2 linked regions of the Homo sapiens genome follow. The protein of the gene in region 1 interacts with the protein of each later gene in a biochemical or structural test. Each region holds a gene or a part of one and is shown in the gene's direction. Other genes may lie near its edges. The genes, in order: TREM2 and UNC5B.

What was found.
Region 2: the proteins of TREM2 (region 1) and UNC5B form a complex in vitro, tested with the Homo sapiens proteins (one large-scale study listed by BioGRID).

Annotation. Positions count from the first base shown.
Region 1 is NC_000006.12:41,160,307-41,164,572, reverse strand, and holds the start of TREM2 (triggering receptor expressed on myeloid cells 2 isoform 1 precursor), read left to right. Parts: upstream 1-1,456; 5' UTR 1,457-1,490; coding exon 1,491-1,530; intron 1,531-2,959; coding exon 2,960-3,310; intron 3,311-4,266.
Region 2 is NC_000010.11:71,289,040-71,292,846, forward strand, and holds part of UNC5B (netrin receptor UNC5B isoform 1 precursor), read left to right. Parts: intron 1-1,875; coding exon 1,876-2,070; intron 2,071-2,392; coding exon 2,393-2,782; intron 2,783-3,427; coding exon 3,428-3,515; intron 3,516-3,807. UniProt on the Homo sapiens protein: Receptor for netrin required for axon guidance. Mediates axon repulsion of neuronal growth cones in the developing nervous system upon ligand binding.

The DNA of each region.
Region 1 (4,266 bases):
ATAGAGATGCATGAGTTTGTCAACATTTACACAACTAGACATTTAAAAGGGGTAAATTTTTGTATATGTAAATTATGGGCCAATAAACCTGACTTCTAGAAAAAGACCCTAGAAGAGTACCTACAGAGTGATCTTCAGGCAGCCTCAGACTTCAGCCCCCAGGCCCTTGGGGCAAGGCCGGGCAGTTGGCCCTTTGAGTGGAGGCCTGTCTTCTCCTCACTATGAATTCCCCATCTCCAAGCACATTCCCTGTCCGTAAGTTAGATGCACAGTAAATATGAGTAAATAAATGAATAAAAGAACAAATAAGTGAGTGTTTGCAGGAAACTAAAGTAGACCCTGATAATCTACAGGCTCCTGCAGGCTTCTCCAGCCTCTTCTGCCACTCCCAGCACAACTCCATTTCCCACTCCTAGAATTGACTCAAGCCTCCTCCATCCAATCCCCGACTCACTGGGCCATTTCACACTTTTGTGCCTTTGCACACGTGGGTCCCTGTGCTTGGATCACCATGGGAACCTGTACGTGTAGAAAAACACACCCCTACCCCCAGAACTCTGAGAAATATCCTGTCCTGTCCTGTAGGATAGGATGATCAGGAGTTCAAGCATGTGTGTGCACAAAATAAACACCAGTGTGAGCATGTGTGCACAGGAGACACCCAACAGTTCCAAGAAGGCTAAACTTGGGCAGAAAATTCCAGGTGGGAGAGAAAATTTTCTGTCTTATGGACAGCCCATTTCCCTTTTCCCTTCTAACTAGGATAATGGTAATAGTTAGTATTTGTTGAATGCTGTGTGTCAGGCCCTACTGGAAAGCACTTTACCTGTAGGAACCCATATGGTGCTCCTGATAACCCTTTGCACTATCATTATTCCCACTGTATAGATCAGGGAACAGACACAGGTAGGTTTTGGATGTGTGGTTACACACCCAGAAAGTCAGGAAGTCTGGCTCCAGAGCTGTGTACTTAACTGCTGCCACACTACAGGAATGACAGCCCTGGGGGGATGAACTAAGAGGTGCTGGATGAGGGTCCTGGCCTCTAAAGGCACAGCTGTTCTCCAACTCTTGCAAGGCTGAAACCAGAAGATGGCGGGCATTGCAGCTGGTGGAGGGTCTGAATACAGCTGTGAGGATAGTGATCCCTGGGCTAGGCTCTGCAAGGAAACTGAGCAGTGCAGGGCCTTACCAGCCCCAACCATCTGGGGGCCACCCTGGCTGGCACCAGCAGGAGGGTGGGCTGGCTTCTCAGAGGTCTGGGAGACTCAGCCTCCTTCTGCCAGGGCTGCAGTGGCCGACTCCTCCTCCCCTCTGTCCCCACCCTGCACCGCCTCCAGACCCCAGTCCTGACTATTGCTTAATCCCCAGGAGCCCAGTTCCTGTGGGCAGCGCCTGACATGCCTGATCCTCTCTTTTCTGCAGTTCAAGGGAAAGACGAGATCTTGCACAAGGCACTCTGCTTCTGCCCTTGGCTGGGGAAGGGTGGCATGGAGCCTCTCCGGCTGCTCATCTTACTCTTTGTCACAGGTAGGATCCCCTCCGTGCCCTGTGATGCCTTCTCTCCCTCACTTTGAGCATGTGGTTGGGGCGCGGGTGGTGGGCCCTGGGGTGAATTATGAAGGCGGTGGCAGTCCTCGCATGCCTGAGTGCCCTGTTCTGCACTCCTCTCCTCCCCACCCTGCCCATATTCTTCACACCCTCCTTCCCTCCCCAGTATCAAAACCTACCCTCAGACTCTTTCTGCATGTGGACATGTAAGGGGCTGGTGGACTCTGGTTGCATTGGAAGGGAAGGAGTGCTAACAGTGGCATCCCAGGCACTAGCTGGCAGTTGGGGGAAGCTTTGGGGGGCACTGGCACTGGTAATAGCCTCTGAAATTATAAGCCACTAATTATGAGCCCCTACAGTTATAAAGGAGGAAAGAACCTGAGGATGTTCATCTGCATCTTTGGGGCACTCTCTCCCCTGCTCTGAAGGTCCCCTTGTCCTCAGCTCTTGATGGGAGGTGAGGAGCGTAGAGATTTCCGTTGCTGAGTTGAGGGGAATTGACACACCAAATTTTTGTACACAATTGCTTCTTCCCGCTGAGGAAAGCGCACCTTTTGCTCCCCCAGAGCACTGGACAAACCTGGGCAAGAGGAGAGACGGTGCCAAATGGAGTCTTGTTCCTGCAGCTTCTTAGATGGTGGTCAGGGGGAAGGCGGGGTTCTGAGGCATGGATGGGAGGTGGTCAGATGGGAGAGGGCCACGGCCCATCTGGTCTCTCTAGTTCCAAAAGGCAAGCCACCAACTTCCCAATCCTATCTTTCAAGCCTCTGTCACAGTAATGGTTGAAGATGGCAGGCAAGGGAGGACCAAGAGAGAAGTCAAAGCAGGGGGCTCTGGGGGCTGCCCCAGCAACAGGCTGGTGCTCTAAGCCCATCTCCCCCGCCCTAAGGAGGGTTCCCAAAATAGCAGCCTCATGTCTCCCCCAAAATATCTCCGAGACGGGTCCTTCCTGAAAGGGGAACAAAGCCACAGAAATAGGGAAGCTGGAAGTTAAAGGTCAGGAAAGTCGGTACCAATGTGGGCGGCTGCAGAGCAAGCAAGAGTGGCGGGGCAGGGAGAGCCAGCCCCAGGCCGAGAGGAGAGGTCCCAGTCCCAAATGATGGCAAAGAGATGTGCAGAACAGAACTGGAGGGGGTTTTAAGACCAAGTGCCTCCAGAATAGACCCAGAGAAGGTCAGTTACTTCTCCAAGGAGGCCCAGCAAGAGCAACAGTGAGAAAACCAAACCCAGGTCCCAGGTTTCCTGGTTCCCAATTTCCCACAAACACATGCTGTGCCATCCGCTCCCAACTTGTATAAGAACCTAAGCTCCTTCAGGGCAGGATTTTTGTCTGTTTAGGTCACTGCACAGAGCAAGTGTTCAAAGCGTATTTGGTAAACAAAGGAGTGAATGAATGTCTCCTCCCCAGAGCTGTCCGGAGCCCACAACACCACAGTGTTCCAGGGCGTGGCGGGCCAGTCCCTGCAGGTGTCTTGCCCCTATGACTCCATGAAGCACTGGGGGAGGCGCAAGGCCTGGTGCCGCCAGCTGGGAGAGAAGGGCCCATGCCAGCGTGTGGTCAGCACGCACAACTTGTGGCTGCTGTCCTTCCTGAGGAGGTGGAATGGGAGCACAGCCATCACAGACGATACCCTGGGTGGCACTCTCACCATTACGCTGCGGAATCTACAACCCCATGATGCGGGTCTCTACCAGTGCCAGAGCCTCCATGGCAGTGAGGCTGACACCCTCAGGAAGGTCCTGGTGGAGGTGCTGGCAGGTGAGTGGGCAGTGGCTGCCTCTCTGGCCTGCCCCTGTTCCAGGCCTCATGTTTTGGGCGTCTGTGTGCAGAACCACCCACTGGGCTCTCAGGGATCCTGGGAAAACCCATCGTATGGTCTCATCTCCCTACTCAGGGCTACCAAGGATAGTTGTGCAGGTTGCTCACTATACAAGGGGGCCAAAATCCAGCCCGGACTCCTTTTGCCAGACTGTGTTCCCTGGTGCAGAGCTGCATCACCTGCAAGAAGGGCACCTTTCTCTACTTTGCATTAAGGCACTCTGTGAACTAGCCTGGCCTTGGCCCTCCTTGCCCAAACAGCTTTATCCATCTCCATCCAGTTAGCATGTGAACATGATAGGAGGTCCTTAAGGAGGAGGAGATTAATTTATTCCCTCACCAACCAACCAATGGCCCTATCAACGTAAGTGAAGCACCAACCTGGTGCAGAAAATCACCCCTAGAAAGGAACACTGCTTGTGCTGGGCAATGTGCTTCACTTCTCTGGGCCTCCATTCTCTCATCTGTAAATGGAGAGGGTGGTGTCTGTCCTGCTGACCCCATAGGGTTCCTGTGAGTTTTTATTTGGCGGGGGGCGTTGGGGGCAGGGTGTGACATGTGCTCCAAGCCTCCTGCTACTGAACTGTCTTGGGATCGTCATTCCAGGTGTGAGTAGGTGGGCCAGGGTGTCTCCTTTCCACCCCCGAGCTCTGCGCAGGGACCACCCTCCAGGAAGGCCTTCTGCTTGAGTCTGCAGAACACAACTGTGTCCCCAAAGGAGAACAAATCTGGGGCTACAAAGGCCTTTTCTGACTCTCCTCCTTTCCAACCCCTTCTCCCAGTATGGCTCTTTACCATGGAAATGAGGTCAGGAGTAGTATTTGCCTGACTTGGGGAGGCCAGGGGAGACTGCCAGTCATAGACACAAACCCCACCTCCACCACTTTCCTAAGGAT
Region 2 (3,807 bases), on another chromosome or scaffold:
CTCTTTGGCTGGCTTTTCCCGGGATCAGGGTGCAGGGCAGGGAGAGCTGAAGGTGCCTACCCACCCCCCACGGGATCATCTACACCTGACACTGCATGTGTCTGCATCTCCATCACCGGCAGACAGGCAAACCCTTGGCTGACAGAAAAGAAAGGCCTTAGGGCACCCTACTGAGCCTCCTCTCATAAGAGGGGAAACTGAGTCACAGAGAGAGGAAGGGACTTGGCCAGAGACACAGGCAAGAAATAGTAGAGCCAAGATTTGAACCCAAATATTTTTATAGCCAAAGCTGTTGTTCTTAACCATATGCCCTTGGCCCTCCTCTCTGGGCCAAGGCCGGGACATCACCACTCCAGTCCCCCCTCATGCCCCTTGCTGTACCTCTCTGCCCCAGCAGCTGGGCCAAGCCTCCCAAATTGTCTCTGTTGCCCGCTGCCCTGCGTCAGCTCTGGAGGGCTCACCCTCCAGCCCCAGAGGCTGCGCCACCACTGCAATCATATCAGAGCAGCAAAGCCACTTGAGCAGGTTGGCCCATGGTAATTAAACCACAATTTCCAGTTAGTTCTGGAATCATAAAATCAGTGAGGCCCTCGGCCGAGCTCACTGGGGGTCGGGCTGGGGATGATTCAAGTGTAAGTCACCAGGCAAGTGGCCCCAGTGTCAGTGAAGGCATTAGGAGGCAGAGCCAAGCTGGGGGAACCATTTCTCTGCTGAACCAGGAGCCCAGCCCTGAGGGGTCCTCTGGGGAGCCCAAGAGTGAGGGCTGCTGAGGAGAGATACAGGGGGACAGAAGTCGGAAGTGGGCAGACATCCGGGGCTGGGAGCCATGCCCTGCCTTGCTGAAAGCCTTAGGCTGACGCCAAGTGCAGGGTGTGGAGGACTCCAGGCAGAGGAAGCAGGGCTACTTCTCTGAGGGCCCCCCAGGGAGGAAGTGCGTGGACAGGTGCTTCCTGGAGCTCCCAAAGGAAGCAAGGGGAAGAGCAGCCATCTTGGCCGCCATTTTTGCTCTCCCTGAACTGCCCAGTGTGAAAGCCGTTCAAACTTATACTTAGCTTAATTAAAATTAAATAAATTTTTAAATTCAGTTCCTCAGCGGTACTGGCTACATTTGAGTTGTTCAGGAGCCATATGTGACTAGTGGCTGCATACGGGACAGTGCAGCCATAGGATTTTCTACCACTGTAGAAAGCTCCACCAGACAACCCTACTTCAGACCCTGCCACTTTGACCTTGAGGCTTCCCGCCTGGCCATGTTTGCCTGGGGGAGGAAAGTGTAGCCGTGGGTTGCCTCCCTGGGCCCATCCTTCTTCCCACATGCTCACCTCTTCTCCACCGCATTGTTGTGCATCTCATTCCACTTCTTCAGCTCCCCGTCCCTCCACTTCCCACCCTCAGAGCATGGAATGGAAGAAGAGTTCAGAACAGCTACTTACAAAGATAACAGAGCCAGAAGACCTTATCTACATACAAAGATAACAGAGCCAGGACCTTTGGTCCTCTGGAAATTGCTACAGACTCAGAGGTTTCAGCCCCAGCACTCACAGGGCAAATTATGTAGCCCCAGTGACTCTGAGCCACAGACCCTGTCTCATCAGCAGCAAGCAATGAATTAACACATGGCATGAACATGTTTGTTCTTTTGTTTCTCATGCCACAACTAGGAGGGCAGTAAGGCAGGGACTTCGAGCCCATTTTACCGATAGAGAGGTTCAAGGCTAGCCCGAGGTTGCCAGCCTGTGTAGGCAGGGCTCAGACTGGAACTCAGCACCGGGCCGGTTGGCCCTGGGCCCTGCCCTTTCCAGGGACCCAGGGCCTCCCTGATTGCCCCAGGGCCTGGTCTCTGCTGCCCCTTATGTGGTCCTCCTGTCCCCGCAGTGCTGGAGGCCTCAGGGGATGCGGCGCTGTATGCGGGGCTCGTGGTGGCCATCTTCGTGGTCGTGGCAATCCTCATGGCGGTGGGGGTGGTGGTGTACCGCCGCAACTGCCGTGACTTCGACACAGACATCACTGACTCATCTGCTGCCCTGACTGGTGGTTTCCACCCCGTCAACTTTAAGACGGCAAGGCCCAGTAAGAACCCGAGGATGTCTGGGGTGGTTGGCAGAGGCAGGATACCCAGAGGGCTCTGGTGGTACCCAGACCAGAGCCAGGCTCCTGACTCCCTCCCAGGGTTTTTCCAGAGTTTGCTCTAGAGATAACTATGTGGATGGGTATGGATTAGAGAACTACCGAGAAGGAAGGGAGTGACCCAGGCTGCGGGATTCCCAAAGCTTCCTGCAGCTGGCAGCAATTGGGCCTTTCACAGCTGGACATTTGGGTGGGATTTTGCAGTGGGAGCTGGGCCAGTGAGCTGAGGCACAGCTGGGTCTGACTATAGCCCCTACTCCTGCAGGCAACCCGCAGCTCCTACACCCCTCTGTGCCTCCTGACCTGACAGCCAGCGCCGGCATCTACCGCGGACCCGTGTATGCCCTGCAGGACTCCACCGACAAAATCCCCATGACCAACTCTCCTCTGCTGGACCCCTTACCCAGCCTTAAGGTCAAGGTCTACAGCTCCAGCACCACGGGCTCTGGGCCAGGCCTGGCAGATGGGGCTGACCTGCTGGGGGTCTTGCCGCCTGGCACATACCCTAGCGATTTCGCCCGGGACACCCACTTCCTGCACCTGCGCAGCGCCAGCCTCGGTTCCCAGCAGCTCTTGGGCCTGCCCCGAGACCCAGGGAGCAGCGTCAGCGGCACCTTTGGCTGCCTGGGTGGGAGGCTCAGCATCCCCGGCACAGGTGAGCCCCTGCCCTGCTTGTGCGTCAGCCTGGCCTTAGCACCTCCTCTGTGGACTGCCCCAACACCCATCCAGCAGAAGATAGGGCTGCCCTAATCCCATCTCACAGATGGGGAAAGGGAGGCCTGAAGGCAGGAAGTGAGTATAAAATAGAGAGGTCTGACTAGAAAAGCTAGGCTTCAAGCCTGCCTATGCCCTCACTAGGGCAGAGGAACCTTGGGCCAGCCATCTTCTAAGCTTCAGTGTCTCTGTTGTGTGAGAGAGAATATTCCAACGTAGTTCAGCAGACCTACAAAGCACTGTCCTGGAACTAGCAGCAGAGGGACAGGGGCGCCTGTTTTAGTTTGCAAAGCCAGCAATTAACAGCTTCCCAGCATCATATACTAAGCTAGGAGTAGAGCTGGCACTTGGACCTCCAGACACCATAGCAATGTCAGAGACCCCTGTCTTCCTAGACAAGCCAGCACTGGTCAGTGGCCTGGCCTCTGCTTGCATCCAGTCCCCAGACCCTGTCTCCCACCCCTGGCTGGGGACTACCTGGAGCTCAGGAGATATCTTTCTCTCCCAGCCCCAAGCTGGGGCCAACTTCCCAAACACTTGTTCTCCTAAGCTCCTGGACTCCCTGCTGACTTCCCTCTCCCCCTAGGGGTCAGCTTGCTGGTGCCCAATGGAGCCATTCCCCAGGGCAAGTTCTACGAGATGTATCTACTCATCAACAAGGCAGAAAGTACCCTGTGAGTAGAGCCCCAGCCGCTGCTCCTTTTTCTTCCTCCCATCCCTTGCTGCCTGCCCACACGTGGCTCCCCTTCTAAGCCTGATGCCAAGACCAAACAGTCCTCCAAGGAAAGTATTAATCTTACTGTGTCCATATTGAAAACTTGCAGAACCAACACCGTAAATTGTAAAACTCAAAGGCGGTTGACAAGCTGGCTACAAGTGTGACAAAGGGCTGAATATCCTTACTATGTAAAGAGATTTTGTAGATCAATAAGAAAAAGTAAACATCTCACTGTGAAAATGGGCAAA